Linked DNA regions of Homo sapiens. The protein of the gene in region 2 interacts with the protein of the main gene of each other region in a pairwise test. Each region holds a gene or a part of one and is shown on either strand. Other genes may lie near its edges.

Region 1 (4,258 bases), on a different chromosome or scaffold from region 2:
CAGTGTGCTGACACACAGAAGGAAGAGATGAGATCAGAATCACGTCCCTTAAGGCCTTGCAAGATGTCAGCTTTTTTTTTTTCTTCTTTTTTGAGACAGAGTCTCGCTCTGTCGCCCAGGCTGGAGTGCAATGGCGCAATCTCGGCTCACTGCAAGCTCCGCCTTCCAGGTTCACGCCATTCTCCTGCCTCAGCCTCCCGAGTAGCTGGGACTACAGGTGCCCACCACCACGCCCGGCTAATTGTTTGTATTTTTAGTAGAGACGGGGTTTCACCGTGTTAGCCAGGATGGTCTCGATCTCCTGACCTCGTGTTCCACCCGCCTCGGCCTCCCAAAGTGCTGGGATTACAGGTGTGAGCCACTGCGCCCGGCCTGTTTTCTGTTTTTTGAGATGGAGCCTCGCTCTCTTGCCTAGGCTGGAGTGCAGTGGTGCAATTATCGGCTCGCCGCAACCTCTGCCTCCCGGGTTCAAGTGATTTTCCTGCCTCAGCCTCCTGAGTAGCTGGGATTACAGGCACCCGCCACCACACCTGGATAATTTTTGTGTTTTTAGTACAGATGGGGTTTCACCATGTTGGCTGGGCTGGTCTCGAACTCCTGTCCTCAGGTGATCTGCCTGCCTCGGCCTCCCAAAGTGCTGGGATTAGAGATGTGAGCCACTGTACCCATGCAAGTTTCTTAACCCTTCTCTTCCTCATTTTCTCATCTGTGAGACGAAGACAGCCTCCCACCCAGACACACTCCCCTCACGGGGCTCTGGGGAGAAATGATGTGGAAAGCTTTGCTAGTAACCTCTACAGCATGGAGGGAGTTCTGGAAAAGTGATTTCAGAAAGGTGTTTATGCCTGGAAAGCCTGTTCATTTTTGTGATGTCCTTGGAGCTGGGCCAGGCATTATCGAGCTAAATCTTAGCTTTTGTCAGAATAGGGGGGTCATTGAGGGAAATTTCCAAAGGAAGGTGGAACGGGATGGGTGGGGAGGTAAGGGCATGAGCAGAGGCAGTGATCGTGGGCAGGAGGTGTCCATAGAAGACGGGCTGCCACTGGCCCTGGAGACAGAAGGTCAGCCCCGGGTTCAAATCCCTCCTTAACCAAGTGCTGAAATGGACAAGTTGCTCAACCTCTCTGGCCTTCAGCTTCCTCATCTGTCAAGCAGGAATCAAACCTCGAACTTCCTCCCGCTGTTAGAATTTCAAGGGAGTTTTAAAGACAGAGCTTTCAACTCTGACCTGTGAACAAGTGTGACATCAAATGTACTGTTCGTTGCTATTATTCTGTTGCTACAAGGCAGACAGTTAGTTTCCCAGCTCCCCTGCAGTCCCCCCAGCCCCTCCTAGATCTGTCTGCCAGCCCCGCCCCGGGGTCACTCCAGCCAGGCTGTGCCAGGTGAATGCTCAGGTATGCGGAGGCGGAGGCGGAGGCAGGACGGCCCTGGGAGGGAGCAGGAGGAGGGGCCGGCAGCCTGGAAGGGAAAGGACAGCGGAGAGCAGGGCAGAGCCTGAGCAGGCAGGTAAGGAGATCCGGGTCAGGAGAGAAGGGGGCCGGGGCTTGACCAATGGGTCTGAGGGACGGGGGGACTGGGGTCTGGACTCCAGGGTCTCAGGGAGGACGGGCTGGGGGTCTGAACTCCCGGGTCTGAGGGAGGAGGGCCTGGGGTCCTGGACTCCTAGGTCTGAGGGAGGAGGGGCTGAGGGCCTGGACTCCTGGGTCTGAGGGAGGAGGAGATGGGGCCTGGACTCCTGGGTCTGAGGGAGGAGTGGACTGGGGTCTGGACTCCTGGGTCTGAGGGAGGAGGGGACTGGGGTCTGGACTCCTGGGTCTAGGGAAGAGGGACTGGGGCCTGGACTTCTGGGTCTGAGGGAGGAGGGGCTGGGGGCCTGGACTCCTGGGCCTGAGGGAGGAGGGGCTGGGGCCTGGATGCCTGCATTGAGGGAGGAGGCTGGGGTAGGAATTAGAGGCTCCTACTGGCCAGGCCTTCACATGTTTGCTGGCTCCCAGGGCACCTCCAGGTGGGCAGGAGCTACCACTCAGCACCATGAGCACCGCCACAGGGTAAGCGCCCCCGGACCCCAGGTCCCAGCCCCAGCACGCCTCCCGCCTCCCCTCGCCTCCTCACCCACACCCGCTTGCGGCAGCCCAGACTGTTTGCGGCGGCCCAGACTCTGGCCCAAGCCCCGACACTCAGGAGGAAGCCAGAGCCTCTCTCCTCCCTGCCCAGCCTGGGGTTAGGGGCCCCCACTGCAGAGCAGACAGGCCTGAGCTCCAGTTCGGCCCTCACACTCAGTGCTGATGTAACCCTGGTCAGAGGACATCACCTCCTGGAGCCTCAGCCCCTCCTCTGTGACACAGGGACAATGTTGAAAAATTGGAGGGATAGTGCATTACAGGACTTAGCTGACCACCTCACTGACAGCAGGTGCTCAACTCATAGGAGTCGCTATTGCGATTGTTATGTTGTTAGTAAATATTAACCCTTTGCTAGAAAATCAGGGCTGTTTATAATGAAGACTCAAGTCCCCCAGAGTAAGCAGGGAGAAAAACAATGAGAGATGAGTCAAAATACCTGCATGGTAGGTAGTGAGCTCTCTGGCCCAGAGGTAATCAAATTGTGGTGACATCAGACTGGCAGGAGCAGGATGAGGAACAGGAGTTTGGGAAAAAGGGTTTTTCAGTTCCCCTGACGCCACCTGATCGCTGAGCTTCTGTTATGTGCATGCAAGTGGGGATTCAAGAATTCTTAGGAAAGGTAATCTTAGGAAGAAATTGAGGACGGGAGGAGACAGAGAAGGATGTGGTTGGGAAGCACCTGGCCCATGGGAGTGGGAGGGGAAGCAGATAATTCCCTGTCTACTTCAGATACCACTAATGCTATTATAACCATTCCCATTTATTGAGCAACTTCTGTGTGCTAAGCCCTGGCAGCATCTTAAGAATGATAATAACAGTTATTGAGGCTTCAAAATACTTCACCTGCATCATCTGACTGAATTTGCCCAACAGCCCTACCAGATGGTTACTACGTTACAGAAAGAAAAACTGAGGCAGGAGAGATTAAATCCTCTTCTGAAGGTCTTATGGCAAGGAGGCAGTAGACAGAGGGTTTGAATCCCGGACTATGCCATGGTAGAGATCACACTCCCCTACCACCCAGCACCACCGCCTGACCTGACCTGTCTTTTTTTTTTTTTTTTTTTTTTTGAGATGGAGTCTCACTCTGCTGCCAGGCTGGAGTGCAGTGGCACGATCTGGACTCACTGCAACCTCCGCCTCCCAGGTTCAAGTGATTCTCCTGCCTCAGCCTCCCACGTAGCTGGCACTACAGGCGCCCACCACCACACCCAGCTAATTTTTGTATTTTTAGTAGAGACAGGGTTTCACCATGTTGGCCAAGATGGTCTCAATCTCTTGACTTTGTGATCCGCCCACCTCTGCCTCCCAAAGTGCTGGGATTACAGGCGTGAGCCACCGCGCCCAGCCTACCTGTCTTCTTAAAGTCCAGCTCTGGCTCTGAGCTCTCCTGCTCAATAATAATAATAATAATAATAATAATAATAATAATAATAACCCTTCCATCGCTCCCCATTACCTTCGTCATGAAGCCCTTGCTGCCCTGCTTGGCATTTCCACAGGATCTGCCCCCAGTCCCACAGTCTCTCTCATTCCTCTTTTCTTCACCAGCCCAGAAGCTGCCCCAAAGCCAAGCGCCAAGTCTATCTATGGTGAGCGGGGGGCAAGGGAGCCCCAGGCCCATAGAACTGGGTCTAAAGAAACAGGACCTGGCATCCAGGGTCTTGGAGGAGGAGGGGCTGGGGGTCTGGACTCCTGAGTCAGAGGGAAGAGGTGCTGGGGGTCTGGACTCCTGGGTCAGAGGGAAGAGGGGCTGGGGGGCTGGACTCCTAGGTTTGAGGGAGGAGGGGCTGGGGGCCTGGACTCCTGAGTCAGAGGGAAGAGGTGCTGGGGGCCTGGACTCCTGGGTCAGAGGGAAGAGGGGCTGGGGGGCTGGACTCCTGGGTCAGAGGGAAGAGGGGCTGGGGGGCTGGACTCCTGGGTCAGAGGGAAGAGGGGCTGGGGGGCTGGACTCCTGGGTCAGAGGGAAGAGGGGCTGGGGGGCTGGACTCCTGGGTCAGAGGGAAGAGGGGCTGGGGGGCTGGACTCCTGGGTCAGAGGGAAGAGGGGCTGGGGGTCTGGACTCCTGAGTCAGAGGGAAGAGGGGCTGGGGGGCTGGACTCCTGGGTCAGAGGGAAGAGGGGCTGGGGGCC
Region 2 (3,500 bases):
TGTTAAAGGAGGTGAGATGTCACCTAATTTGTATGCTATTATGTAACTAGTCTAGGATATTGAAGCTGACTATACTCTGTTTTTAGGTCATTATCTTGTAGTTTACCATACTCCCTACTTGCTTCTTATTCTACTATTTAACTCATTTTCCACATCCCCTAATTTTGGTTTCATGAAATTATTTTTCCTTCTGAATTACTAGGTTCTACTTACTATTATTAAACTTTATTTCTGACATATTTTATAACCTTCCATGGTCTCACTTGATTAAAAATAAAAAATTCAGCTGGGTGCGGTGGCTCACACCTATAATCCCAGCACTTTGGGAGGCCAAGGTGGGCGGATAATTTGAGGTCAGGAGTTGGAGACCAGCCTGCCCAACGTGGTGAAACCCCCCCTCTCTACTAAAAATTCAAAAATTAGCTGGGCATGGTGGCAGGTGCCTGTAATCCCAGCTACTCAGGAGGCTGAGGCAGGAGAATTGCTTGAACCTGGGAGGTGGAGGTTGCAGTGAGCTGAGATTGCACTGCTGCACTTCAGCTGGGTGACAAGAGCGAAACAATGTCTTGAAAAAAAATAAAAAATAAAAAATTCTACAACACAGGGTTATTATTTTTCCATTTTTGTTTTCCCTTATGAGTTTAATATGTTTAGATTATAAACCTGAAAGCTTGAATACCTATGTCTATCTTTTGTTTTCTTATGTTTATCAAGTTATTCCTTTAAACATTTTCTAAACTGTAAGAATAATGTGAGGCTGGGCTCAATGGCTTATGCCTGTAATCCCAGTGCTTTGGGAGGCCAAGGTGGGAGGACCACTTGAGGCCACGAGTTCAAGATTAGCCTGGCTAGGCAACATAGCAAGACCCTATCTCTATAAAAAAATTAAAAAAATTAGCTGGGCATGGTAGCAAATGCTTGTAGTCCCAGCTACTCAGCAGACTGAGGTAGGAGGAATGCTTGAGACCAGGAATTTGAGTGACCTATGATTATGCACTCCAGCCCGGGCAATAGCAAGACCCTATCTCTTAAAAGAAGAAGATGTAGTAATAATACATATTCATTATAACTATTTTACCATTGAAAGTAAAAAATGAGTTTTTACCTTTTCCCAGTCCCATCCTCAGAATGGGGATCTCAGTAGACCTTTAGGATTGGAAGAATGAGATCATTCATATTTTCTGCAATTATTACCCCACAAAATATTTCAGATACCTTTCCATGTATTACAAACAATGTGCATTTAACATGTCTCTCTCTTTCTCTCTCTCTCTGTGTGCGTCTTCATGATCCTCTGTTGCAGCCCTGCCAGTAAGACACTATCTCCTGAAGAATCACTGATAGGAACAGAAAGTGGACTGGCTAGGCCAGGAGTCCTTAGCTTCTTAGGGGGCAGGAGCTGCTTTGTGCTTTCTCAGAATCAGATATATATGTGGACTGAAACATTTAAAAACAGAATAGCCAAGGGTGCTATACGTTTAAAACTTATATAGATGGGGCTACATTGCTCTCTATTACTAATTTCCCATGACAATACACGAGAGTGCCATGTCTTTTTAACTTGTTTTGAGCACAGACTAATCTTGTTTATGCATGTTTTTTGATGAGAATAGGCTACTCATGAGAAATCTGTAAACCTAACACTAGTCCCTTGCATACTCTAAATTGTTGCTAGAATCTTAAAATTTTAGCACCAGACGGACCTTAGAAATCATTAACTTTGGTGCTTTGTTCTACAATACAAGGAGATGGAATATTTTACCCAGGATTGCTTAGCAGGTTACAGTTCTGCCCTCTGAGTACCCAGCACTTCCCTGTGGGCAACATCAACTTCCTGATTTTCAAGTCTTAATTAGTACTCTGAAGAATCCTACTTGTTTTTAACTCCCATTTGCTTTGAAGTGACTTTACCTGATTTTTTTAGATCCCTTATTGCAGCAATGCCACTAAGAAACTGAGTCTCTAGCTTCTTGGTGGGCAGGAGCTGCTTTGTGCTTGCTCAGAATCATCCTTTTCAGTAAGGGAGATATTGAAGAGAAATCTACTGAGGAGTCTGGGGGTGAGGCACTCAGGGAAATCCTGCTCCAGTCCACAAAAGCAGAGAGGAAGGGTTGGTTACCTAGAGTATTTAACATGCAGAGGCTTTGGATTTTACTCCTTTAATCCTTGGAAATGCCTATGGAAGGGGAAAGGAAGTAAGATGGTGACTCCAGCTTATAGACATACTAGTGTTACATATATTTAAACTATAATAGGAGGGTATTATTAGTTTTACTTAACTTTCAACTGTGAAGGATTATACTTCTCAATATTTGTCTCCAGTGTCTATTTCAGTGTATTTTTCACTTTTCTTGAAGCAGCATGTCTGTTGCAAAACTTCTAGAAATAATGAGAATATTTATATATTAGATCAAGCCATAACTTGATGATATAGTCATTTCTTCTTATATTTTTTACTTACATTTTTACATTTTAATGATTACTTTCATTTTTGAAAAACATGTCATGCTGAGATGTATTTTTCTTCATTCTGTAATTAGTTATGAAACAGTTTTTCCTAAAATGCTGAGTATATCAAGTCTTGGCTAAGAATAAGTAATAAATATTTGCCACATGAAAGACTACACATATAGCCAGGTGCAGTGGCTTGCACCTGTTTTCCCAGCTACCCAGGAGGCTGAGGCAGGAGGATTGCTTGAGCCCAGGGTTTCCAGGCTGCAGTGAACTATGATTGTACCACTCTACTCCAGAATGGGTGACAGAGCCAGGCCCCATCTCTCAAAACAGAAAAGAAAGATTACATAGACTACATATACACCCCCATCCAAAACATACACACACATCTACTTAACCTAAAATGGTAAGAAGATAACTTCTTATTTTCTAATATATGACACAGAAAAGTTTTTTTAAAGTAGTTTTAAATTTTTAATTTTTTCTAGGTATTTCTCAAGCCATGTTCCCATGTGGTATCTTGTCAACAAGTTGAGGTGGAACCCCTCTCAGCAGATGATTGGGAGATACTGGTAAAGAAAACCAAATAAGAACTATCTCATTTAAGGTTAAATTACTTCACAATATCAATGTCTTTAGCTTTCTCTAAGCTTTATTATATATTCTGAGTTGGTTTTGAATTATAAGAATGAATTGGGGCCAGGCACAGTAGCTCATGCCTATAGTCCCAGCACTTTGGGAGGCCAAGGCAGGTGGATTGCTTGAGTCCAGGAGTTCAAGACCAGGCTGGGCAACATGGTGAAACCCCGTATCTACTAAAAATACAAAAATTAGCCAGGCATGGTAGTGCATGCCATTAGTCCCAGTCACTTGGGAGGCTGAGGCAGGAGAATCGCTTGAGCCCGTAAAGTCAAGGCTGCAGTGAGTCAGGATCTTGCCATTGTACTCCAGTCTGGAAAACAGAGTGAGACCTTGTCTCAAATAAAAAAAGAATGAATTGATAGAGATCTAATGTACAACCTGACAACTATAGGTAATAAAATTGT

Evidence for each region. The genes of interacting proteins can lie anywhere in the genome.
Region 1: the proteins of PEX1 (region 2) and EPS8L1 interact in binary tests that used the Homo sapiens proteins (3 or more experiments, as listed by UniProt).

What each region holds. Positions count from the first base shown.
Region 1 is NC_000019.10:55,074,411-55,078,668, forward strand, and holds the start of EPS8L1 (epidermal growth factor receptor kinase substrate 8-like protein 1), read left to right. Parts: upstream 1-1,458; 5' UTR 1,459-1,509; exon of another isoform or gene 1,510-1,997; 5' UTR 1,998-2,034; coding exon 2,035-2,051; intron 2,052-3,677; coding exon 3,678-3,718; intron 3,719-4,258. UniProt on the Homo sapiens protein: Stimulates guanine exchange activity of SOS1. May play a role in membrane ruffling and remodeling of the actin cytoskeleton.
Region 2 is NC_000007.14:92,518,521-92,522,020, reverse strand, and holds part of PEX1 (peroxisomal ATPase PEX1), read left to right. Parts: intron 1-2,942; coding exon 2,943-3,026; exon of another isoform or gene 3,027-3,061; intron 3,062-3,500. UniProt on the Homo sapiens protein: Component of the PEX1-PEX6 AAA ATPase complex, a protein dislocase complex that mediates the ATP-dependent extraction of the PEX5 receptor from peroxisomal membranes, an essential step for PEX5 recycling.